Homo sapiens: one gene and its partners. The protein of the gene in region 6 purifies or fractionates together with the protein of the main gene of each other region. This does not show direct contact. Each region holds a gene or a part of one and is shown on either strand. Other genes may lie near its edges.

The links.
Region 1: the proteins of TMEM130 (region 6) and INTS1 purify together in Homo sapiens (affinity purification with mass spectrometry; one large-scale study listed by BioGRID and IntAct). This does not show direct contact.
Region 2: the proteins of TMEM130 (region 6) and GOLIM4 purify together in Homo sapiens (affinity purification with mass spectrometry; one large-scale study listed by BioGRID and IntAct). This does not show direct contact.
Region 3: the proteins of TMEM130 (region 6) and POM121 purify together in Homo sapiens (affinity purification with mass spectrometry; one large-scale study listed by BioGRID and IntAct). This does not show direct contact.
Region 4: the proteins of TMEM130 (region 6) and PCDH10 purify together in Homo sapiens (affinity purification with mass spectrometry; one large-scale study listed by BioGRID and IntAct). This does not show direct contact.
Region 5: the proteins of TMEM130 (region 6) and XPO5 purify together in Homo sapiens (affinity purification with mass spectrometry; one large-scale study listed by BioGRID and IntAct). This does not show direct contact.
Region 7: the proteins of TMEM130 (region 6) and TMEM131 purify together in Homo sapiens (affinity purification with mass spectrometry; one large-scale study listed by BioGRID and IntAct). This does not show direct contact.

What each region holds. Positions count from the first base shown.
Region 1 is NC_000007.14:1,480,390-1,483,889, reverse strand, and holds part of INTS1 (integrator complex subunit 1), read left to right. Parts: intron 1-36; coding exon 37-148; coding exon of another isoform or gene 149-189; intron 190-1,182; coding exon 1,183-1,344; intron 1,345-2,401; coding exon 2,402-2,548; intron 2,549-2,956; coding exon 2,957-3,055; intron 3,056-3,448; coding exon 3,449-3,500. UniProt on the Homo sapiens protein: Component of the integrator complex, a multiprotein complex that terminates RNA polymerase II (Pol II) transcription in the promoter-proximal region of genes.
Region 2 is NC_000003.12:168,029,925-168,033,424, forward strand, and holds part of GOLIM4 (Golgi integral membrane protein 4), read right to left. Parts: intron 2,929-3,500; coding exon 2,596-2,928; intron 113-2,595; coding exon 1-112. UniProt on the Homo sapiens protein: Plays a role in endosome to Golgi protein trafficking; mediates protein transport along the late endosome-bypass pathway from the early endosome to the Golgi.
Region 3 is NC_000007.14:72,942,095-72,945,446, forward strand, and holds part of POM121 (nuclear envelope pore membrane protein POM 121), read left to right. Parts: coding exon 1-1,428; intron 1,429-3,352. UniProt on the Homo sapiens protein: Essential component of the nuclear pore complex (NPC). The repeat-containing domain may be involved in anchoring components of the pore complex to the pore membrane. When overexpressed in cells induces the formation of cytoplasmic annulate lamellae (AL).
Region 4 is NC_000004.12:133,162,794-133,166,293, forward strand, and holds part of PCDH10 (protocadherin-10 isoform 1 precursor), read left to right. Parts: intron 1-183; coding exon 184-489; intron 490-3,500.
Region 5 is NC_000006.12:43,548,539-43,552,038, reverse strand, and holds part of XPO5 (exportin-5), read left to right. Parts: intron 1-585; coding exon 586-741; intron 742-1,027; exon of another isoform or gene 1,028-1,069; coding exon of another isoform or gene 1,070-1,071; intron 1,072-2,104; coding exon 2,105-2,146; intron 2,147-2,460; coding exon 2,461-2,550; intron 2,551-3,500. UniProt on the Homo sapiens protein: Mediates the nuclear export of proteins bearing a double-stranded RNA binding domain (dsRBD) and double-stranded RNAs (cargos). XPO5 in the nucleus binds cooperatively to the RNA and to the GTPase Ran in its active GTP-bound form.
Region 6 is NC_000007.14:98,856,515-98,860,014, reverse strand, and holds part of TMEM130 (transmembrane protein 130 isoform b precursor), read left to right. Parts: intron 1-3,500.
Region 7 is NC_000002.12:97,814,449-97,817,948, reverse strand, and holds part of TMEM131 (transmembrane protein 131 precursor), read left to right. Parts: intron 1-2,641; coding exon 2,642-2,750; intron 2,751-3,500.

The DNA of each region.
Region 1 (3,500 bases), about 97 Mb from region 6:
GAACCTTACGGCCTGACTCCACCTCTTTTCCCACAGTCGGAGTCTCAGGACCAGGTCTTCCTACGCTGGAGCAGCGGGGAGACAGCCACCATGCACATCCTCGTGGTCCATGCCATGGTGATCCTGCTGACGCTGGGCCCGCCTCGAGGTGAGCCGCCACAGGCCCCGGGAGGGGCAGCTTCGTGCCAGGTGGGCCACAGCCCTGACCACACCCAGCGGCTTCCGCATCCTTGCCTTGCTTCTGGGCGGGAAGCCCCCCAGCCCTTCAACCCTGTGTCCTGGCTTCTCTCCTAAAGAGGAGGCTGCAGTCCGTCCCGCGTGTCTCTGAGCACTTGGTGGACGTGTGGGAGATCCCCACGTGGTGGGACCTCCCAGCCTGTAGAGCCCTGAGCTGGAGGGCCTGGTACAGCCTGGGGTCAGAGTCCTCACTGCCCCAGCCTAACCGTGTAGGCCTGCGGTGCCTGGGAGGCGGCAAACTCGGGATTTCACCGTGTGGAGGTGCGACATGAGGCTGCCAGGCAAGTGGGTCCTCTCCCCGGGGCCCAGGCGAGTGACCCTGAGGACGCTCTGGCCAGCGCAGTGTCTGGAACCCAGCGCCTACCCAGCCGTGCCCTCTGCGGCCGCAGCCTTCCCCTTTACTCCTGGCTGACACCATGAACTGCTCCCACGTTCACCCCGTTGTGTCTGTCAGTGGGGGAAGGGGGCGGAACCCTCATGCTGGGGTTCGGGTGGACGTGGGTGGGTGGTGACCCCTGTTGGGAGGCAGACACAGTCACAGGCGTCGCCCTTGGGAAGGGCAGCCGGAGAAGCTGGCCCTGTGTGGGCCTGGGCCTGTGGGGTTTCCCAGTGGCTTTGCGGAGCCAGAGAGCTGGATGGGACCTGGTCCAGCCAAGCAAAGCCCCGAGGGCAGGGGCTGGATGGGGACACGCACATGTCCCCTTGGCCACGACAAAATGGCAGTGATGCTGCTTGCCTTCCTGCAGCATCTGTGAGGATCAAATGCGTGCACCTACGCAAAGCATCCGCACATAGCAAGTGCTCACCTAGCACAGGAGCCCCGTGCTCCTCCCAAGTCTCAGTTTCCTTCTCGGGAGAGGAGGTGCCTCTAGCCTTGGCACCAGCGGTGCTTGGGGCTGGGCCCCGGTGGGTCTGAAGGCTGCTCACCCGTTGTCCTTCCTGAAGCCGACGACAGCGAGTTCCAGGCGCTGCTGGACATCTGGTTTCCGGAGGAGAAGCCACTGCCCACCGCCTTCCTGGTGGACACATCGGAGGAGGCGCTGCTGCTTCCTGACTGGCTGAAGCTGCGCATGATCCGTTCTGAGGTGCTCCGCCTGGTGGACGCCGGTACGGTCCAGGCTGGGCTTGGGCAGGGGCTGCTGACTCAGGGGTCCCGGGCCCCTTGCCTGCTCCTTGTGGGCCTGGGCAGCCTCCGGCTGTGGCAGAGGAGAAGACTGGCCGGGTAGCCTCAGGGGATCCTGCAGACCATATGTCCTGGCCACAGCAGGCTGTGCTGGACCCTGGGAGGAGACCTAGGGCAGCCTGTGCTGGCCCCGTCCGAGAGGGTCTTACTGTCAGGCTCAGGGGTCTAGAGTGAGAAACAGGTCCTCGATGGAAAAAAGAGAAAGTGGTCTGGGGTTGGAGAGGAGGAGGAGAAGTGGTGGGGCCTCTGGGTGGGTCCCTGAAGGATTTGGGGGTTGGAGCTGCAGCCGGGGACCCCAGCAAGGACTGAGCAAGGGGCCTGGGCCCACGTAGGTCAGTAGGGCTGGTGCCTGCTCACAGTGAGGAGACACTGGGGGCAGCTTGGTGAGTGAGTGGGGCTGGCTCTGGAAACCCATGACTGCCAAGGGGTCTAGGCTGTTGTGTGCCCCCGGAAGCCACCGATGGCTTCGGGGCAAGAGCGCCCTGAGCACTGAGAGAAGATAGTCACAGCAGCCTGCGTGCAGCTTCGGAAGTGTACTGCGCCGTGCCACCATAGGCCCTCTGGAGCGCCCACCCACCCCTGGGGATGGGGCCCACACAGCTGCCATCCAGGGTGCAAGGTGGTCCCGACACGCTGCCCCCTTGTGCGGCCCCAGGTCTCGGGTGGGGTCACCGAGCCCACGTGGCCCAGGGTCTCAGGTGGGGCTGCCGAGTGTGCACTGCCCCAGGTCTCGGGTGGGGCTGCCGAGTGTGCACTGCCCCAGGTCTTGGGTGGGGTCACCGAGCCCACGTGGCCCAGGGTCTCAGGTGGGGCTGCCGAGTGTGCACTGCCCCAGGTCTTGGGTGGGGTCACCGAGCCCACGTGGCCCAGGGTCTCAGGTGGGTGGGGTCACTGCACACAGGCAGCCCCAGGTCTCGGGTGGGGTCCCGAGTGCGCATTGCCCGGGTTTTGGGTGGCGTTACGGAGCGCGTGCACCCTCAGCCCTGCAGGACCTGGAGCCGCAGCAGCTGCTGCTGTTCGTGCAGTCGTTTGGCATCCCCGTGTCCAGCATGAGCAAACTCCTCCAGTTCCTGGACCAGGCAGTGGCCCACGACCCCCAGACTCTGGAGCAGAACATCATGGACAAGAGTAAGATGCCAGGGACCTGCGGAGTGGGTTCACACACGCTGACCGAGCCCCAGCCCGGCCAGGCTTTTGGGGCCTGGGTGCGAGCGGGTGGGTGATCCGAGGTCGGGTGGGTGTGGGTGGCACTCGAGGGCAGGCTTAGACCTGTGGGTTGGTGAGGCTGGCACAGTCAGGAGGGAGCCGAGGCCTGGGCCTGCCCCAACCCTGGGGCCAGGCACCCCCTAGGGCCGTGTTTTGAGCTTGGAGGGAGCTGTTGGGGCCTCAGTGCTGACTGAGCTCACCCAGCTTCTGAAGTCCTTGGGAAGTGCTGGTGACGGTGGGGGCATCTCCAACTCTGGTTTCTGTGGAGAGGGAAGGACCTGCTCCCTGGCCCCTGGCCGCGCCCAGGTGTGACCCTGCTACGGTTTGCAGATTACATGGCCCACCTGGTGGAGGTCCAGCATGAGCGCGGCGCCTCCGGAGGCCAGACTTTCCACTCCTTGCTCACAGCCTCCCTGCCGCCCCGCCGAGGTACTGGGGAGGGGTGGGGCCAGCACAGAGACCCAGCCTGGGGAGGGGTGGGGCCAACACAGAGACCCAGCCTGGGGAGGGGGACGGGGCCTGCACAGCCACACAGGGCAGTGCACACTTGCTGATGCCACCTGAGAGGGGCCCCCACAGAAACTCTCAGCCTGTCTTTGGGCAGCATTTGCCTCTGGCCAGCATGCACGTTCCTGTTCAGAGTCTTGAGATCCCTGTGGACCTGAGCGAGACCTGGGGTCCTTGGGGAACACAGAGCCCAGGTCTGAGCTCTTCCTCCTGGGTGACAGTCCCCGGGCAGGACTCGCCATGGCTTGTACAGTTCCCACCGCTGGAAGCAGGTCAGAAAGTGTCCAGCCACTGACAGTTCTCCTGTCTCTGCAGACAGCACAGAGGCACCCAAACCAAAGAGCAGCCCAGAGCAGCCCATAGGCCA
Region 2 (3,500 bases), on a different chromosome or scaffold from region 6:
GTTCCCGCAGCTGCTGGGCCTCCTCCACCTGCTGCACTGCCAGTCTCTGCTGTTCCAACTGTTCCTCATAGGGTGATTGGAATTTGATCATTGGCTTGGCTGAAGGGTACACCTAGGGTGAAAAAGAGTTGGTGCAGAGCAAGAGGGGTTAGCTCCTCTGGGTTTTCTCTTCATTTGTTTCTCCTGACAAACTCAGGAGGCAGAGCTGGTTTATTAACGACTATTTGTCAGGTGAACTGTGATTATACATGAAGTCCAAAAACTCCTATTTCCCAACTTTCTCTGAATCACCCTTGGCTTTTTTAGCAGCTGATATTTCCAACTACTGCTATTAAGGCAGATTTTCAATGTGCTCCCTTCTCAAATGGAACAGAAGGGACAACCGAAGATAACAGTTTCAAACTGTAAAATTTATGTTCACAAGGCTCTGATATAAACAAGTAGTTGGTAACTTTGGTAACTTCACATTAACTGGGCAATCTGTGACCTTATGCTACGCCTAAGGCTTTTTCCATGAACAGTTAAAGACCGAGGGATGCTAATTAACTCTAGTAATGTATATACCAATCCCAGGCTAAGCATAGCCAAAAAAAAAAAAAAAAAAAGCCACATTCCAGGTAATAGTGGAAAAGCAGATATTCAATTTTTTTTCAAAGAAACTAAGAATGGCTGAGAAGATGGTGCCTTCTGATTAAAGGGAAATCTGATACAGCAATTCTTAAAACTCTGCTTCCCTGAGATATTATCTCACCCCAGTTATAATGGCTTTTATCAAAAAGGCAACAACAAACGCTAGTGAGGATGTGGAGAAAGGGGAACCCTCGTACGCTGTTGGTGAGAATGTAAATTAGTATAGCCAATATGAAAAACAGTATGGAGGTTCCTCAAAAAGCTAAAAATAGAACCACCATATGATCCAGCTATCCTATTACTGGGCACATATCCAAAAGAAAGGAAATTGCTATATTGAAGAGATACTTGCACTCTCAGGTTTATTGCAGCATTACTCACAATGGCTAAAACATGAAATCAACCTAAGCATCCATCAACGGATGAATGGATAAAGAAAATGTGGTACATATACACAGTCATAAAAAAGAATGAAATCTTGTCATACGCAGTGACATGGATGGAACTGGAGGCCATTATGTTAAGTGAAAAACTTCAAGCACAGAAAGACATACATTGCATATTCTCATTCATGTAGGAGCTTAAAAAAGCGATATTGATAAGATAGAGTGGATTGGTGGTTACTAGAAGCTGGGAAGGGGGATGAAGAGAGACTGATGAATGGTACAAACATATAGTTAGAGAGAAGGAATAAGACCTAATGTTTGGTAGTTCAGTAGGGTGACTACGATTAACAATAATCTATCTTATATTTCAAAACAGCTAGAAGAATTTGAATGCTCCCAAAATAAAAAAGAGATAAATGTTTGATGTGATGGGTTATCTAGGTTTGATGTGATGGGTTATCTAGATTTGATCATTATACATTATATGAATGTTTCAAAATATCGCCCATACTCTGAAAATATATACATATATTATGCATCAATAAAAAGTGTCTGTACCCCATTGAGCTACTACCCATCCTCCCTGCCATACCCCAACTAACAAAAGCACACACAATTCTCACTTAAGGAAAGAGGTAGAGGGTTGGGAAGTAAAGCTGGTGGGGAATTACTTCCCCTATTGGGGAAGGACACAAGACTGGAAGAAGCTTTCTGAGGTTAAGTTTGCAACTACCTAAGAGGGCAACTACAGAGGTCTTCACACCTGCTTAGCCTAAAGCCTCAAGCGGCTTGAAGTCTCAGAAAATCTGAGGCCGAATAAAACTTCAGAGTTATAAATAGAAGGTGATCCACACCCATGTAAAGGCCAGGTAACCTACTATTGAGACTCAGTTTAGAGACAGTAAAAGAAAGGCATCTAGCTGCACTAACTGTTGGTTTAAAAGAAGAAAGGGTAGAGTTTTCTTTTAAAGCATCATTTATAATAATCCTGGCCATTTTTTTTTAAGAAAGGGAAAAGTCTTACGTGTAAGTGGCGTGTCCAGTAAGGGATCCTGAGCAGAGGCTGTTTAGATATGCTCACCTAGTAGAATATCTCCAAGTAGTAAAATCAGATTTTTGATAATTAAATAACCACCTTGAAGGTGAATACAAAAGGCAACATACTGACAATAAATGAACAGGGAGAGGAGGACGCCTGATCATAGAAAATGAGATTTTTCTCTGCCTCAAGATGCTCAAGACAAAACTTGGGTACAAGCTGGGAAGGTGCCCCATCAGGTACTCACCTGTTCTACTCTATTAAGGTGATGTGAGAATGAATCTCTGACTGTGTACAACTGACAAAAAGAAGAATGCACACATACAACAGCTGTGCTCTCTCATCACCAATCATCTTTCTGAGGTATGCGAATAGCTATGCTATTAACATTACAAGAGAAAACTTAAATATGAGCATATAATGTTTAGTAGAATCACTCACATTTCTATTTTAGAGATTGTGATATATTACCTTAATATGTAAAAATAAAGCCAGGTTTTCCATCCCAGTACACCATACCAGAAGCGGGTGACTTCATACCTCAGCACGCGCGTGCCCTTCCAGGAGGTTGGCTGCTTCTCGTTGCTCATGCTGCTCTTTCCACTCCCGATCCTGCTCCTCTGGTGATGGATCGTGTTCCTCCTCAAGATGTTCTGCTTGCCCGACCTGCTCCATTTCTTCCTCCTCCAGGGCCTTTCTGTGCTCCTCTTCCACCTGATGCTCCTCAGGTTCTCTGCGTTCCACTTCTTGTTGGATTGGCTCTGGGGGAGCCTGAAATTCTGCCTCCTTATGGGTGGGAGCATAGAGTTTTGTGTCTTCTGCTCTTCCAGGAACTGCTTCATGGTTCTGCCACACATCATTATTTCGAGACACCTAGGCCAAGCACATCACTGGGAATGACACTCTTCCAATTTCAAAAGTAATGATGTAATTTCTTGATTTCCATGTCTATGGGGCATGGGGCTACAACAGAAGAAGGTGTCTAGAAATATATATAGTCCTGGCTTTATGGCTGCAATGGAGTCACTTAAGTTTCTTACTGTGTAATCTCACTTATAAAATAGACATAATATAAGCAAAACTTCATCTGTGAAGAATACAGTAAATAACCTGGAAAATAAAACCTCCAAGTAACCAATATCTCAGAAGTACTCTAATTCCTATTTTCCCTTAGAATAAAAAGGAACAAAACCTCAAACTTCAAGTGATGAAATGTTTACATAATTTTCTTCAATGTAAATTTTGTTTTCAGTAATTATTTGAAAAGAGAAGGATGAAATAAAATTGAGGAGTTGGGTTTAGTTTTTACTAGTTTGGTTTACTAATTTAAAAAAGAATGCCATTGGCCGGGCGCGGTGGCTCACGCCTGTAATCCCAGCACTTTGGGAGGTCGAGGCGGGTGGATCACGAGGTCAGGAGATCGAGACCATCCTGGCTAACACAGT
Region 3 (3,352 bases), about 26 Mb from region 6:
AGCAAAGCTTCCTGTTTGGAACACAGAACACCTCACCTTCCAGCCCTGCCGCCCCTGCTGCATCTTCAGCACCTCCCATGTTCAAGCCCATTTTCACGGCTCCACCCAAGAGTGAGAAGGAAGGCCCCACACCGCCTGGCCCTTCAGTCACAGCCACAGCGCCCTCCAGCTCCTCCCTCCCCACGACCACCAGCACCACAGCCCCGACCTTCCAGCCTGTCTTTAGCAGCATGGGGCCACCTGCATCTGTGCCCTTGCCTGCTCCCTTCTTCAAGCAGACAACTACTCCCGCCACTGCTCCCACCACAACTGCCCCGCTCTTCACTGGCCTGGCCAGCGCCACCTCTGCTGTGGCTCCCATCACCTCTGCCAGTCCATCCACAGACTCTGCTTCGAAGCCTGCGTTTGGCTTTGGCATAAACAGTGTGAGCAGCAGCAGTGTGAGTACCACGACCAGCACCGCCACTGCCGCCTCACAGCCTTTCCTCTTCGGGGCGCCCCAGGCCTCTGCTGCCAGCTTCACCCCGGCCATGGGCTCCATATTCCAGTTTGGCAAACCTCCTGCCTTGCCCACAACCACCACAGTCACCACCTTCAGCCAGTCCCTGCACACTGCCGTGCCAACGGCCACCAGCAGCAGCGCTGCCGACTTTAGTGGTTTTGGCAGCACCCTCGCCACCTCCGCCCCGGCCACCAGCAGCCAGCCCACTCTGACGTTCAGTAACACGAGCACCCCCACGTTCAACATTCCCTTTGGCTCAAGCGCCAAGTCCCCGCTCCCATCATATCCGGGAGCCAACCCCCAGCCCGCATTTGGGGCCGCTGAGGGGCAGCCACCGGGGGCCGCCAAGCCGGCCCTTGCCCCCAGCTTTGGCAGCTCTTTCACTTTTGGAAACTCTGCAGCCCCGGCTGCTGCACCCACACCTGCACCTCCGTCCATGATCAAGGTCGTGCCTGCGTACGTGCCTACGCCCATCCATCCTATCTTTGGCGGTGCCACGCACTCGGCGTTTGGGTTGAAAGCCACGGCTTCGGCCTTCGGCGCTCCCGCCAGCTCACAGCCCGCCTTTGGCGGCTCCACTGCTGTCTTCTTCGGTGCAGCCACCAGCTCCGGCTTTGGAGCCACCACCCAGACCGCCAGCAGCGGGAGCAGCAGCTCGGTGTTTGGCAGCACAACACCATCACCCTTCACGTTTGGGGGTTCGGCAGCCCCCGCTGGCAGTGGGAGCTTTGGGATCAATGTGGCCACCCCAGGCTCCAGCACCACCACCGGAGCTTTCAGCTTTGGAGCAGGACAGAGTGGGAGCACAGCCACCTCCACCCCCTTCGCAGGGGGCTTAGGTCAGAACGCCCTGGGCACCACCGGCCAGAGCACACCGTTTGCCTTCAACGTGAGCAGCACAACTGAGAGCAAACCTGTGTTTGGAGGTAAGGAGGGGCGTGGACTTGGGCTACCGGGCCGGACACTGAAAAGCTGTGCCTGCGAAGCCTGTGGTCTCGGGGAGCTTATGCTGTGGCAGTGAAGAGACAGGCACTGAATATAGAACTCAGTGAGATGCCAGGGAACGATACATGTTTTGCTAACGTAGTAATGACTGGAGGAGCCATTGTGGATTTAACTGGTCAAAGGCCTTCTGAGTAGTTAACAATTGTAAGCTGAAGGTTGGGCGCAGTGGCTCACGCTTGTAATCCCAATATTTTGGGAGGCCAAGGAGGGTGCATCACTTGAGGCCAGGAGTTCAAGACTAGCCTGGACAACTTGGCGAAACCCTGTCTCTACTAAAAATACCAAAAAATTAGCCGGGCGTGGTGGTACCCACCTGTAATCCCAGCTACTCAGGAGGCTGAGGCACAAGAATGGTTTGAACCCAGGAGTTGGAGGTTGCAGTGAGCCAAGATCATGCCACTGTACTCCGGCCTGGGTGACAGAGCAAGACTCTGTCTCAAAAAACAAACCGTAAGCTGAATATGGGGGTGGGCACAGCACAAGTGGACATGCCTTTCAGGCCCAGGATGGCGCATGCAAAGGCCCAGAGGCAGAAACATGTTTGGTATGTTGAAGAGCAGAACAAAGACAAGCATGGCAGGAGGGCAGGAGCTAAAGCAGTGGTGTGGAAGGAGGCCAAGAGGCAAGGATTGTTTGTGGCCAGGGTTGGGTGTTTGGGTCTTAAGTGTTCAGGAAAACCATTGCAGAATCAGGCAGAAGGATGCAGTGATGGTTCCTCCCATGTGGAAGATGAATGTAGATCCCATGGCTTCTGTTTGCTTCGTGAAGTAGAGAAAATCTGGGAGAGAGAGGGTCAGGATAAAGTGTATAAAAAAAGGGGTCTTTTGAAATAGTCATTTTGGACAGTGGGGGAAAGGAACATCATATTAAAAAGTGTGATCAGTTTCCAGGCAGTTTGTGGGCTGGAAAATTGTGATTGTGAAGTTAAAGTGAGGCCAGTTAGCATGGCATGTGTTTCCCAGCGACACTGTGGGTGTAGACCTAAGGTCAGCGGACAGCTGGTGCCACCCGGCCATGGAGACCCCAGCAAGCACAGCAGGAGGGGCAGCGGGTCAGTGCCCCGATGCAGCTCAGGGGGTGCAGGAGTGGAGAGCGGGTGAAGTCAGCTGCAGGAGGGGTGGTGCCTACAGGAGATTCGGGAGCCGGAGCAGTTGTGGTGACAGTGTGGCTGCAGGAGTGGTGGCAGGGGTCGGGGAGAGGAGGTCATGGGGGTGGCAGGGTTGAGGGGCTGAGAGGACCATCAGTCAGCCTCACAGGGCGAAGTCACCGTGAGTGGTGATGGGAAGGAAGCCAGTGAGCCAAGGGTCCTCTGTGAATCAGGGAGTGACCTGGCAGTTGACAGGTGACATGAGGACATGGCAGATTAAAGTGATCTGAACTTGAGTTACGGTATTTAGGGAAGGAAGAGAAACAGTGTGGAAGCAGCGTGGGAGCACAGGGAGCTTCCTCTTGTCCGGGCCGGAGGCCAAGCCCTGAGAGCAGCCATCCCTGCAGAGGGGCTGCCAGAGAGGGCCTCGGGCAGGCAGCCAGAGCCAGTCAGGGCAAGGCCGGGGAAGGGAGGGGACCACGGGGCATCACAAAAGACGCGGGACGGACAAACCAGGCTTCAGAGGGGAGGGGACGGTGGCTGGGGGAAAAGGCCTGAACAGAGGAGGTAGCCAACCCAGGTACGCTAGGAGGCGGGGGCCCCAGAGTACTCCCCTCTGCAGCGATGGTCAGGAGGCCCACGAGGTGGCTGCGGGGCAGGGGGGCTTTTTCTCTGCCCTGGCGTGGCCATTAGCGGGTGGGAGAAGCAGGCTGAGCTGGGGCACCAGGCATGAAGACTCGGTTGTCTGGCTCAGCTGC
Region 4 (3,500 bases), on a different chromosome or scaffold from region 6:
CCTTTTTAAAGTGATGAACAAAAATGAGACAAAATAATATTTGGTTCCTGTCAGGATAAGCCAGGAAAAATTTGTTAAGACAACTTCACTTGTCACCCTTTATGCTACCTGTAATCTTACACTGCTAAGTAACTGGTCATGTTGGTGAAGACTACATCCGTAGTTTCTGTTTTCTGCTTACAGGTATGGATCTCTTCTCCAATTGCACTGAGGAATGTAAAGCTCTGGGCCACTCAGATCGGTGCTGGATGCCTTCTTTTGTCCCTTCTGATGGACGCCAGGCTGCTGATTATCGCAGCAATCTGCATGTTCCTGGCATGGACTCTGTTCCAGACACTGAGGTGTTTGAAACTCCAGAAGCCCAGCCTGGGGCAGAGCGGTCCTTTTCCACCTTTGGCAAAGAGAAGGCCCTTCACAGCACTCTGGAGAGGAAGGAGCTGGATGGACTGCTGACTAATACGCGAGCGCCTTACAAACCACCATATTTGAGTAAGTATTACACAAAGGGCTCTGTTAAAGTGTTCCCTTTGAGGAGATAAAGTTCAACATTCCACTCTTTTTGGTAAAAATGGAGTTCAGGTTTTTTTAAGAAATAAAGATAAAAGTGACTGGATGCTGGCAGCACTTTAGGGCAATATTCTTTATTTAAAATAATAGATTCCTCTAACATTGAGACATTAATAATTGCACTGAGCTCTTTCAAAATATAGGACTATATTCTCCAAATTGATTATTTTATATAATCATTGCAAACAATAAAAATGCTTTGAGATTCCATAATATATTTCCTTTGAGGATCTTGGTAATGAGAAATAGAAATATTTTTCTTTTAGTTAATGGATAAATATTACTGGCAATTCAATATCTTGGTCAAACTACATAAATAATGTTTGATAAAGATAAAACTCATAACAACTCAATCAAAAGATGACTTACATAGCAGATCCATCCTACGTAATGTTTTATTTCATCTACTACAAAAATAACTGTGGAACTTATAAGCTAGAACGAAAGATGAGACAGATTGTAGATATGTCATTTCTTTTATGACTGATGAAATTGAAAAGTAAAAGAGTTTTTAAAAACTTAAAGGAAAAAAACAGAGGAATATTTATTTTAGCCTTTATGAAGTATAACGTGAAAAGCAAAGATTGAATGCATTGAGGTTGTGGCTATTAACCTGGACATAGATAAAGCAAATAGACAAGTGTTATATGCTTAAAGGAATGGTCTTTTATTAGATGCATACATTGTAGTGACAACAATAGGTGGTGTTTTATGAAGGATTGTTTTCAGCTTTTCAAATTACTCAGAACCACAAATACCCCAGCATGATGTACCACTTTAGCACTTCAGAACCAAAAAATCATTTGTTTTGCTTTATTTTTTTAAAGTTATACAAAGAGAGAACAAATACTTAAAGACAGGAAATATTGAGATGTCTAAAATGCAATTTGGATGCTAATGTCTTAAGTTTAACTCACAAATCCACACATGCTAGTGAATTAAAATAGCCTAAAATCAAACTTTAATAAGTGAGGAACATGATGCGATCTTTGCCTCTGAAATTGAATTCTGGATTCAAAATTTTATTTATTATTAAAAGTAAAACTTTTCCAAATTTTAAACAGCATATTTAACTACTGTTTCACTTAAACTAAGAATGTACATTATAGAAATACATTATTAATCATTTCAAGGCAAAAAGTGAAGGGTATATGATTCAGATTAATAAAAATTTGCATTTCTAAATAAATACAAATATTTGCTTTTACCATATAATAACAGGTAAATCTACTTCAAATATAGTGGGAAAATCAACTTGCCCTCTTTTGCTCTTAGTGAGTACTAATCTTGGTGAAATTACACTTACACATAGACCTGGAATTTTTAACATTTACAGATGTCTTTTCTTTACTGACTGGATTTTTTTATTAATAAGACTAATGGAAACAATTTTTATTATTAAAATATTAATGCTGCATATATTTTAATGCAAATTTTTCTATTTCTTAAGAATCTGGTCTTTCATTTAGAAATCTGATTCAGGGATTATGAAATTTATTAACAGTTATGTGTGTTGCTAAAAATCAAAAGAATGCATCTATTATTTCACCAGGAAAATTTTAATTATTTGCTCATTTTATATATATATTCATATATATACACATATATTCATTATATACATATATTCATATATATACACATATATTCATATATATGTGTATATATATGCACTAACACATTCCAACATATATTCATATATATACACATATATATATACATACATATATTCATATATATATGAATATACATATGTTGGAATGAGTTAGTTTTTAATTGTAGTTTTTTTCCCTAATCTGTTTTAGCCAGTTCACACGGCTCAAAATTTAGGGTTTGGGTTGACGTGTGACCTGTGGTGGAAAATTTGCAGAAGAATAGCTATTTTGTTGTTTTCACTTCTGCTCTTCTTAGTTCTTCATACGACTTTAATCATGTCTAGACTGGTTTTTTTTTTTAATTTAACTTTTAGTATTTAATGTCATCTTAGAGTCATCCAATTATATTTAAAATTACACCATGACTCTGACTTAATAATCATAAAAAATTTATAGTTAGTCTGATAATACAAACTCTAAAACAAAACTATTCCTGACCATTTTGCCCCTCAAATTCATATGGTGATAGTTTTTGATACTTGTGTCCTTTTTCATTCAGAATAGAAATAGTGTCATCTTCTAAGTCTAAAGTAAGTCCCTTGCATAATTAAAAAAGCTAAAAATTGACACTACTTGCTTTTAATCAGAATGTTTGAATAATTATTAAAGTTGTAGAGTTTTTTTGCTAAATATGCAGTTTCATAATGAATATAATGTACATTTTGATGTTAGGAAAAATAGCAGTATATTTAGTTATGTTTTTGTAAAGCTCTAAAAAGCCTAATGAGACTGTCACTGTCATTTATACAATAATGACAAGGAAATGACGATATGCTTAAAAATACAAAAGAGATCAATGTCAGTACAAATAACTTTTGATTTCTATACCTCCGATTGCTAAAGTTAAAACTAAAAACTGCAAGAAAACAACTTTTACACAAAAATAGATGGATGCAAACATTAAATAATGTACTTCATGTTCTTAAAAATATGCTTACACTTACATTTCTTTTTATTTTAATGTATTAACAAAAGACCCATGAAGAGTATACATGATGTATTTAATAAAAGGAGACTTTTTAAAAATCAGGAATAATTTTGAACACATCATTCAATACTTGCTGAGTTATTCATGAGCACTTTCTGAGCTTGCTTTCTCTTATTTTTCCTATAATGTTGTAGTTTGCTAAGTTGATATGGAGCAAAGGGATACACTCAAAGATTGAGTAAATAAATTTAAACAGGTAGAACATGGCCATATATTCAGAAATGCCGTATTTAGATTTACCTTAAATGTTAATGAATTTCAGTTTTACTTTACCTTTAATTTTCATTAGCATA
Region 5 (3,500 bases), on a different chromosome or scaffold from region 6:
TGAAGAAATACAAAATTTAAGAGGTTTTAGGGAATAATACACTGCTGAGAAGATGGTAAGAAGGGCACGCACAGCTGAGTACGGTGGTTCACACTTGTAATCCCAACACTTTGGGAGGCCAAGATGGGAGGAATGCTTGAACCCAGGAGTTTGAGACCAGCCTGGACAATATAGTGAGACCTCATCTCTACTAAAAATTTAAAAAATTAGCCAGGCATGGTGGTGCGTGCCAGTAGTCCCACCTACTTGGGAGGCTGAGGCCGTAGGATCACTTGAAACCAGGAGTTTGAGACCAGCCTGGTCGACATAACAACACTTCTACAACATCTCTACAAAAATTTTAGAAAGTATCCAGGCATGGTGGTGCCCGCCTGTAGTCCTAGCTACTCAGGAGGCTAAGGCAGGAGGATCCCTTGAGCTCAAGAGTTTGAGGTTACAGTGAGTGATGATTGTGCCACTGTGCACTCCAGCCTAGGTGACAGAATGAGACCCTGTCTCTTTAAAAGATGAAAATAAAATGTAGCCAAAATGGTTATTTCTAAGTGGAGGCAGCCATTGTCAACCTGTTTTATGTCTTTGTTACAGGAAATTCCTGTTAATGATGGAATAGAGCTATTGCAGATGGTTCTGAACTTTGATACCAAGGATCCCCTCATCCTGTCCTGCGTCCTTACTAATGTCTCTGCACTCTTTCCATTTGTCACCTACAGACCAGAGTTCCTGCCCCAGGTCTTCTCTAAGGTATAAAGCCCATCTCCTTTGTAAATTTTATTTTGACATTTCTAAGTTAATTTTTATTTATTTTATTTTTTTGGAGACAGGATCTTGCTACATTGCCCAGGCTGGACTCAAATTACTAGTCTCAAGGGATCCTCACACCTCACCCTTCTGAGTAGCTGAGACTACAAGCATGCACAACCATGCCTGGCCTAGGCTAATTATTTTTGTAACTATTTTTAAAATTATGTGAGGCAAACTAATAAACACAGCTATTTATTCATTTATTAAATATCTACTCAGTACTTACTGTGGATCAGGTACCATGCTAGTGCCTCACTCTTTAGGAACACTCTGGGAAGAAAGGCACAAAAACAGTTAATGTTACCTATATGGCATTGCAATGAAGACTTGTATAAAGGAGAGTATTAGAGTGTGCTGTCGGGCAGGGAGGGGATTTATGAGAGGAAGGAACACTTTCCAGGTTTCCAGTTCAGTTGACTAGGTGGGTGATAGAGCCACTCCCTGAGTCAGAATACCAGATCACAAAGGAGAACGGGACTAAAGAAGAGAAAGCATGAGTATTTTGGAATACTGTGTTTGAAGAATATGTAGAACATCTTTATGGAGACATCTCACAATAAATTGGCTATTTGAGGTTGAAGATCTAGACTCTAGAAAGTAATGAGATAAAATTAAAGCATCATCATCATAGTAGTCCCACGACTAAAAGTGAAGTCTTACTGAAGTGATTATGTATGTAGAGTTAGGAGACATGTGAGTCAAGCGAGGAACCTAGTGAATCACCATCATTGGAGGAGTGGAGAAAAAAATGAGAAGCCCCCACAGAAGGAAAAAGAGCCAGAGAAATGAAGAAAATGTTGTGTCACAAGACCAGTAGGACTTCAGAAAAGTGGGCTCATTTGTTGCAAATTATTTGAGTTGGAGAATGCCCAGTGAGTTTCTTGACTACACTCTTGTCTGAGTTTAATTCCATAATAGTGGCCAAGTAAGCAGCCATATTTCATTGGAATGAGGAGTAAATGGGAAATAATGAAATGGAATAGAAGGGATAGACCATACAACTTTTGATAAAAGAAGAGAGAGGCGTTTCCATAGCCAAGTGCTTGGGTGATGGCATGAATTGTTCTGGGATCCTATTGTAAAATGTTTTGATGGTAAAATTGTGACTCCGATGACTCTTGTAGAGGTTATCTGAGAAAATGGACAGTATGAATAAGCTCATGCCCGTAGTCCCAGCTACTCAGAAGGCTAAAGCAGGAGAATCAGTTGAGCCCAGGAATTCAAGTCTAGTCTGGGCAACATAGCAAGATCTCATCTCTAAAACAAATAAACATGAGTGACCTTTTTTCCTCCTCTCCCTTAGCTATTTTCATCTGTCACTTTTGAAACTGTTGAAGAAAGTAAGGTAAGACCATTAATTAAACCAATAGATTCTAACTTCTTGAGTACAAATGTATGAATACCTGATACTCAGTTTATATTTTTATATAAATGGGAGGGGGTAGTAAGGGTGGTAGATTATCATATATGTTGTTTTGCCACTATAGGGCATACAAGAAACATGGATTCTTGGTGGCTATAAATGTTACTCCATTATACTCTTAGGGTTGTGAAAAATCATTGTGAATTTGCCCCTGACTGAGATATTCACATGAGTCTATGCAGCACCTGTATATTATATTAAAAGCAGCTCCGAGTTTGTTGAATGTCTCTTTTCAGGCCCCCAGAACCCGGGCAGTGAGGAATGTGAGGAGGCATGCTTGTTCCTCCATCATCAAGATGTGTCGTGACTACCCCCAGCTTGTGCTGGTAAGCTGCTGGACCCTGGCTGAAGTAGCCAAGTTTGGTTACATTTGTGTGTAAATCCAGCTTTCAGTGTACCTCACATAAAGAAAAAACTAGAAACTATAGCTTTGCATCATATAAGCATCCTTGGCCGGGCATGGTGGCTCACACCTGTAATCCCAACACTTTGGGAGACTGAGGTGGGTAGATCACCTGAGGCCAGGGGTTCGGGACCAGCCTGGACAACATGGTGAAGTCCGGTCTCTACTAAAAGTACAAAAAAATTAGCTGGGCATGGTGGTGCATGCCTGTAATCCCAGCTAGTCAGGAGGCTGAGGCAGGAGAATCACTTGAACTCAGGAGGCGGAGGTTGCAGTGAGCCAAGATCACGCCATTGCTCCAGCCTGGGCAACGAGCGAAACTCCATCTCAAAAATAAATAAATAAACATTCTTGAATTGGTGTTTTCTTAGTATACTTAGTAGTATAGTTAGAAATGTGATGGCAAATGTAATCTCTCTTCAAAATACAAATAGTTCTCTGCCATATAGATTACTAAGTTTACCCCTATAATTCTACAACTCTTTACTATGTGATGATCTTAATTACTACTGCCAAATGATGTGCCTGATCTTGAGAAAAGCAGATGCAAATCACAACCCTTTTTGGGGCATGGGGTTATAAGAAATTTAACATTACTCCAGATTACAAATTATCCAGAAATTTCTTCTCTGAATGCACAGCAGTTATCTCCATATATATATAGATATACATATATATCTATATATATATATAAAACAAGCTGATCTTTTCACAGTTGTAGTATGGGAAAGTGCAGTTATCCAAATACTCAAGACAAGAGCTATCTTCCGCCTAAATTGCCTTGCTTATTTAGGCAAAATAAAGACATATAACAGAATTACCAAATAATAACCTTATAGGCCTGACTTTCCTGGGACTGCTTTGGTTTTCTTC
Region 6 (3,500 bases):
TCACTGCAACCTCTTCCTCCTGGGTTCAAGTGATTCTCCTGCCTCAGCCTCCCCAGTAACTGGAACTGCAGGCTTGCGCCACCACACCTGGCTAATTTTTGTATTTTTTTTATTTTTATTTTTTTTAGTAGAGATGGGGTTTCACCATGTTGGCCAGGCTAGTCTCAAACTCCTGGCCTCAAGTGATGTGCCTGTCTTGGCCTCCCAAAGTGCTAGGATTACAGGTGTGAGCCACCATGCCTGGCTAATTTTCATATTAAATTTAATTAATTAATTAATTAATTTATTTATTTATATTTTTTAGTAGAGACTGGGTTTCACCATGTTGGCCAGGCTGGTCTTGAACTCCTGACCTCAAGTGATCCTCCCACCTTGGCCTCCCAAAATACTGGGACTACAGGTGTGAACCACTGCACCCACCTGAAGCTCCTCTCCTTTCCCTGCTCACCCTGTCTCCTTTCAAACATCCTTCAAGCACCTCCTCTCTGCCACGACTGGGGGTCCCGGAGAACACTGGTGAATCAGCCACTAGCCCTGCCTTTGTGGTGTCTTCACCTAATAGAGGAGGCCATTGGTGCCCAAAACAGCCATTTAAGGAAGGTAAAGGTACATGAGATTTTTTCCCATTTGACCTCGAAGGGTACCCAGCCAACCCTTGGTGGATACGAGGTAGAACCCAGGTGCTCTGGCTTCGTTTCTCTTTATTGCTCCTTTTTAACTTTTTGTCTTTTTTCCCCTTTTTGGTGGAGGAGAACAGGGTCTTGCTATGTTGCCAAGGCTGGTCTTGAACTCCTGGGCTCAAGTGATCCTCCTGCCTCTGCCTCCCTAAGTGCTGGGGTTACAAGTGGGAGCCACCATGCTTGGCCCTACTCCCTTCCTCCCTCCCTCCCTCCCTCCCTTCCTTTCTTCCTTCTTTTTCTTCCTTTCCTTTCTTTCCTTTCCTTTTTCTTTTTTCTTTCTTCTTTCTCCCTTCCTTTCTTCCTTCCTTCCTTCCTTCCCCCTTCCTCTCCTCTCCCCTCCCTCCCTCTCTCCCTCCCTGTCTTCCTTCCTACCCTCCCCTCCCCTTCCCTCCCTCCCTTCCTCCTCCCAAAGTGTTGGGATTACAGGGGTGAGCCACTGTGCCCAGCAAAACTCAGAATGTGGATTTCCTAACTCTTGGTGACAAAAGCAACCTGTGGTCAGACACTCAGGCTAGAGTACAGTGGTGTGATTATAGATCACTGCCGCCTTGACCTCCCAGCCTCAAGCACTCATCCCACCTCTGCCTCCTGAGTGGCTGGGATTACAGGCATGCACCACTACACCCAGCTAATTTTAAAATATTTTTGTAGAGACAGGATCTTACTATGTTGCCCAGGCTGGTCTCGACCTCCTGGGCTCAAGAGATCCTCCCATCTCAGCTTCTCAAAGCATTGGGATTACAGGTGTGAACCACTGTGCTTGGCTTTCCTCACCCCCCGCCCTCCATTTTTAGAGACAAGGTCTTGCTCTGTCACCCAGGCTAGAGTGCAGTGGCACAAATCTGACTCACTGCAGCCTCAATCTCCTGTGTTCAAGGAATCCTCTTGCCTCGACCTCTCGAGTAGCTGGGACCACAGGCATGTACCACCACATCTGACTATTTTTTAAAATGTTTTGTAGAGATGGGGTCTCACTATGTTGGCCAGGCTGGTCTTGAGCTCCTGGCCTCAAGCCATCCTCCCGCCTCAGCCTCCCAAAGCACTGGGATGACAGGTGTGAGCCACCGTGCCTGGCCAGATCATCTCTTTAGATGCCAAAAAAGCGTTAGTATGAACAGAAACGAACATTCAATGTAATATCAATAAACTAGAAAAAGAAGTTGCTGGAACTAACAACTAACATTATACAGAAATGAACATTCAATGTAATATAAATAAACTAGAAAAAGAAGTTGCTGGAACTAACAACTAACATTATACTGAGTGGAGAACTTAGAATATGTTTTTGTTTTTGGCCGGGTGCAGTAGCTCACTTCTGTAATCCCAGCACTTTGGGAGGCTGAGGTGGATGGATCACTTGAGGTCAGGAGTTTGAGACCAGCCTGGCCAAAATGGCAAAACCCCGTCTGTACTAAAAATGCAAAACAAACAAACAAACAAAAATTAGCCAGGCATGGTGGTGTGCGCCTGTATTCCCAGCTACTTGGGAGGCTGAGGCAGGAGAATCGTTTGAACCGGGTAGGAGGAGGTTGCAGTGAGCTGAGATCATGCCACTGCACTTCAGCCTGGGTGACAGAATGAGACTCCCTCTCAAAAAAAAAAAAAAAAAAAGGATGTGTTTTTGTTTCTGTTTTTGAGACAGGGTCTCGCTCTGTTGCCCAGGCTGGAGTGCAGTGGCGTGATCACTGCTCACTGCAACCTCCGCCTCCTGGCCTCAAGTGATCCTCCCACCTCAGCCTCTTGAATAGCTGGAACCACAGGCCTGTAACATTACGACTGGCTAATTTTTGTATTTTTTGTAGAGACAGGGTTTTGCCAAATTGCCCAGGCTGGTCTCGAACTTCTGGGCTCAAGCAGTCCTCCCACCTTGGCTTCCCAAAGTGTTGGTATTACAGGGGTGAGCCATCGTGCCTGGCAAAACGTGGAATGTGGATTCTCTAACTCTTGGTGACAAAAGTGACCTGTGGTCAAATACCTCTGGGGAGTCGTTGCATTGAGATGTTGGGGGAACCTGGCTCTAGATGCAGGAATAAGACAAGGGTGCTCCTTATCAGGGTCCATCGATATTATCCTGAAAGTTCTAACTTACTTAGGAAAGTCAAGAAAATAAGTGCGGGCCTATGGTGGCTCACACCTGTCATTCCAGTGCTTTGAGAGGCCAAGAGGGTGGGGAAAGCTTGAGCCCAGGAATTCGAGACTAGGGTGGGTAACATAGTGATACCTCGTCTCTACAAAGAATACAAAAATTAGCCAGGGATGGTGGCACGTGCCTGTAGTCCCAGCTACTCGGGAGGCTGAGGTGGGAGGACTGCTTGAGCCTAAGAGTTCAGAGACTGCAGTGAGCTATGATTGCACCACAGCACTCCAGCCAGGGCAACAGAGCAGAACCTTATCTCTAAAAAGGAAAATAAAAAATAAAAAAAAAAGGGAGAGAGAGATAAAAAGTACAGTATAAATATTGGAAAGCAGACAATTTGCAGGAAAGACCATTTACTTGAAAAATCTGGATGGCAGCTTTGTCCAACAGAACCCTCGGCTTGGCTGGCACAGTGGCTCATGCCTATAATCCCAGCACTTTAGGAGGCTGAGGTCAGAGGATCACTTGAGCGCAGGAGTTCAAGACCAGCCTGGGCAACATAGTAAGACCTTGTCTCTACAAAAAATCATGTATTAGCCTGGCACAGTGGTACACGCCTGTGATCCCTGCTACTTGGGAGGCTGACACAGGTGGACTGCTCAAGCCCAGGAATTCAAGGCTGCAGTGAGCCATGATTGTGCCACTGGGTGACAGAGTGAGACCCTGTCTCAAAAAACAAAAAC
Region 7 (3,500 bases), on a different chromosome or scaffold from region 6:
TTAAATGAGAATTGAACCTCTGAACAGGGCTTTTTTCATAGGCACCCATGCAACTGAGTAGCTGCTATTAAGCTTAAACTTTGGCTTTATGATAAAGCCATCTGTGCTCAGAGTCCACATAGTAAAGCTCAGCTCCTCATCGGATGAGAATATTTGATCAATGAATGTAGGAGGACACTGGCACACTTCACACAGTGTTTATGAGAGTATCTATGCCTGCTGCTCACTGTGGAGAGTTCTAGGGAGGGTCTGGAGCAGCTACGGAGGTGGGGCTGGCCTCAGGGTTCATCCTGTGAGCTCAGTGAGGACTCTCAAGGAATAAAAATCACATAGGCAGCATACTTCATGATACAGTTGTCAAGAAATAGTATTATAGAAGACATTAATGCCACAGTAATTTCTACATTTGTGGTAAAGTGTTCTCTATGCTGCTGAGAGACCACATTCATGCCTACCAGTGTCAGTATCACGAGGTACATTGTCTTCCCTTACAGAGGAGGAGGCGGCTAATTTTTGTATTTTTAGTAGAGACAGGGTTTCACCATGTTGGCCAGGCTGGTCTCAAACTCCTGACCTCAGGTGATCTGGCTGCCTCAGCCTGGCAAAGTGCTGGGATTACCGACGTGAGGCACTGCACCCAGCCAGGATAAGAGCATTTAGGACCCACCCTTCACAGATGTGCCGGAAAATTCTCCACATGGTCTGCAAGGGTGAAGAGCTGCTCTGCAAGGGTGAAGAGCTACTCTTCTCTAGCTCCTGTATTGACCACCCACTTAATCTTTCCCTTCTTGAGATAAATGCGATGTCATTAGTGTTGGTTCTTCTGAGATCGTAGGCTCTAAGATAATTGTTTCTTAAAGAAATATGTAAAATTAAATAACAACAGCAAAGGGAAAGCATCTTTAAGAGCAAATGCTACATTTCTTAAAAGTAGGTTTTTAATATCATGTGAAAATCCCCCCACCATTCACCTCTCCCACTGCCATGCTGGATCCCCACACAAAATACCTCTGAGATTGCTGTGAAAATCAGTCAGGAAGTGTGTGTTATTTAACTTTTAATATTGTTAGAATGCACCTTATATATGTATTAACTCTGCAGTGTTCATTTATCAAGCATCTTTCTCATCAAAAGTTATTCTTCATGATTTTCAACAGAATTTTCTTGAGCTTTTTGACCACTTTATTTGCTATGTATGATACAATGTCATGAAATGCTTAAATGTGGCCCTTGTAATCAGTCTTACGTCAGAACAAATAGTGAAAAATTGAAAGCATCCAGAGATGGCTAACTAGCAAGCAGAGAAATAAGAGGCTGAATGGGAATTTTTAAAATGGAAAGTCTGTGTCTGCCATAGTCAAACACTAGATGTCATACCATTTCCTTGTTCTTTTTTGTCATGAGGTTGGATGACACACATTTGCGGAACTCACATATGAATTCTTCACATAAATGGAAGTGTTCCTAAAGTACTCTAAGAGGATAAACATAAACAGCTTCTTTATTTGCTTTGAAAAGAACCATCTAATGGGTACCTAGATTGGACCCAACTGAATCAATTTCTGTAATTCCTTATTTATTTATTTATTTTTTAATTTTTGTTTTTTTGGGTCAGAGTCTCGCTTTGTTGCCCAGGCTGGAGTGCAATGGCGCAATCTCGGCTCACTGCAGCCTCCACCTCCCAGGCTCAAGCGATTCTCCTGCCTCAGCCTGCCAACTAGCTGAGATTACAGGCACGTGCCACCACACCTGGCTAGTTTTTGTGTTTTTAGTAGAGACAGGGTTTCACCATGTTGGCCAGGTTTGTCTCGAACTCCTGACCTCAGGTGATCTGGCTGCCTCAGCCTGGCAAAGTGCTGGGATTACCGATGTGAGGCACTGCACCCAGCCAGGATTATTCAAAACTGCTATGAAATCTGAAGTTTTTACTTCATCTAAGATGAGGACAATATAATATGATGACAGGAGGGGATTTATCTCCTCTTATACCATGAGTTTTAGGGTTGGCTGGTTTTTGAGAAGAGCTCTGAATTCTTGACTTTTCTTATACCATGCTACTTTATTGGTGATAGAGCAAGACTTTGGCCATACAAGAAATGTTATTTCTTTCTCAGTTCAAGTGTAAATCAGCAGGGCTAAGTGGGGGGTAATTTTGCCTCCAAGGGGATATCTGGCAATGCAGAGAGGCATTTTGGTAGTCACAGCTGCAGGGATGCTACTGCCGTCTAGCAAGTAGAGGTCCGGGATGCTGCTAAACATCCTACAGTACACACAACAGCCTCCGCAACGAAGAATTAATCTGGCCTAAAATGTTAACAGTGCCAAGGATGAGAAATTCTGCTGTAAGTAAAGCCAAAGCCTGTGGCTACAGCAAAGCAGCTTAGGTACAGTGTTTTACCTCCTGAACCATGCTCACCAGCTAATTCCTTATCTGCTTATCTTATTACAGGAAATATAAAACATTTTCCCCCTTTTGTATGAAAAATGTGATGTTTCATTTAAAATGTTATAAAAAGTGTTCTGTTGGCCAATTTGGAAGCTCAACTTTTTTTTTTTTTAAGATTTTGTCAATTTACATAAATTCACTAATTCTCTTTGGTAGTAAAAGGTAACAGAGATTATTTTTTATGCTTCCTTTCAGCATCGAAGGCAAAAAAGCCATCTCAGTTTTCTGGGAAAATAACAGTTAAAGCAAAGGAAAAGAGTTATTCTAAACTTGAAATACCATATCAAGCAGAAGTTTTAGATGGGTGAGTTTCTTTTTAAAATAAATTCTATTACTTTTTACTAATCAGTAAATTATATTTTCCTGCTAAATGACCTGCAGAAATACTAGCCACGTTCACATAAACTTGATGGAATTATTTTTTGAAAGAACAGCCCCAACTATAAAAGAGAAAACCTCCTATATTTTGTTTATATTTTACTTTTTTAGAAGAAAAGGGTAAGTGGGATGATAGGATTTGGGCTTAAATGAAGACTTAATGATTCAAAAATCTGATTTTTTAAATATTATTTAAATCATTTGAACCATTTCCTTTCTGACATTTGTTTGTAATATGTAAGTGATTGTGGCCTATTATTAAAGTATTTTGACACTCGAAACAGAATTCTTTATATTCCTTTATAAATTCATAAACACTTCTAGAATTACAACTTTTTATAAATGGGAAGTGACATGTTCATTTTCTATTGTACTTTAACCAATAGTAGTTTAATACTCAACTTGGCAAAGATTCATTTTAGCAAAGCTCCTTGTAATTCAGTGATAAGCATGATTTTTTTCAAAGTAAAGCTTTTTTTGTTGATATGTCTTTGATTCTAATTGTATGATTCATATAATTCATTAGAGAATGGTTGTTTGTATTAATTTCAGTATTTTGCAAGCTAAATTTTGTTTTAAATCATATAGTCAATCACTAAAATATTATAGTTCTAAATCTTTAATACAATCCCTAATGCTAAATGTAAATTATTACTTACAACAGAAGAACTTGGAT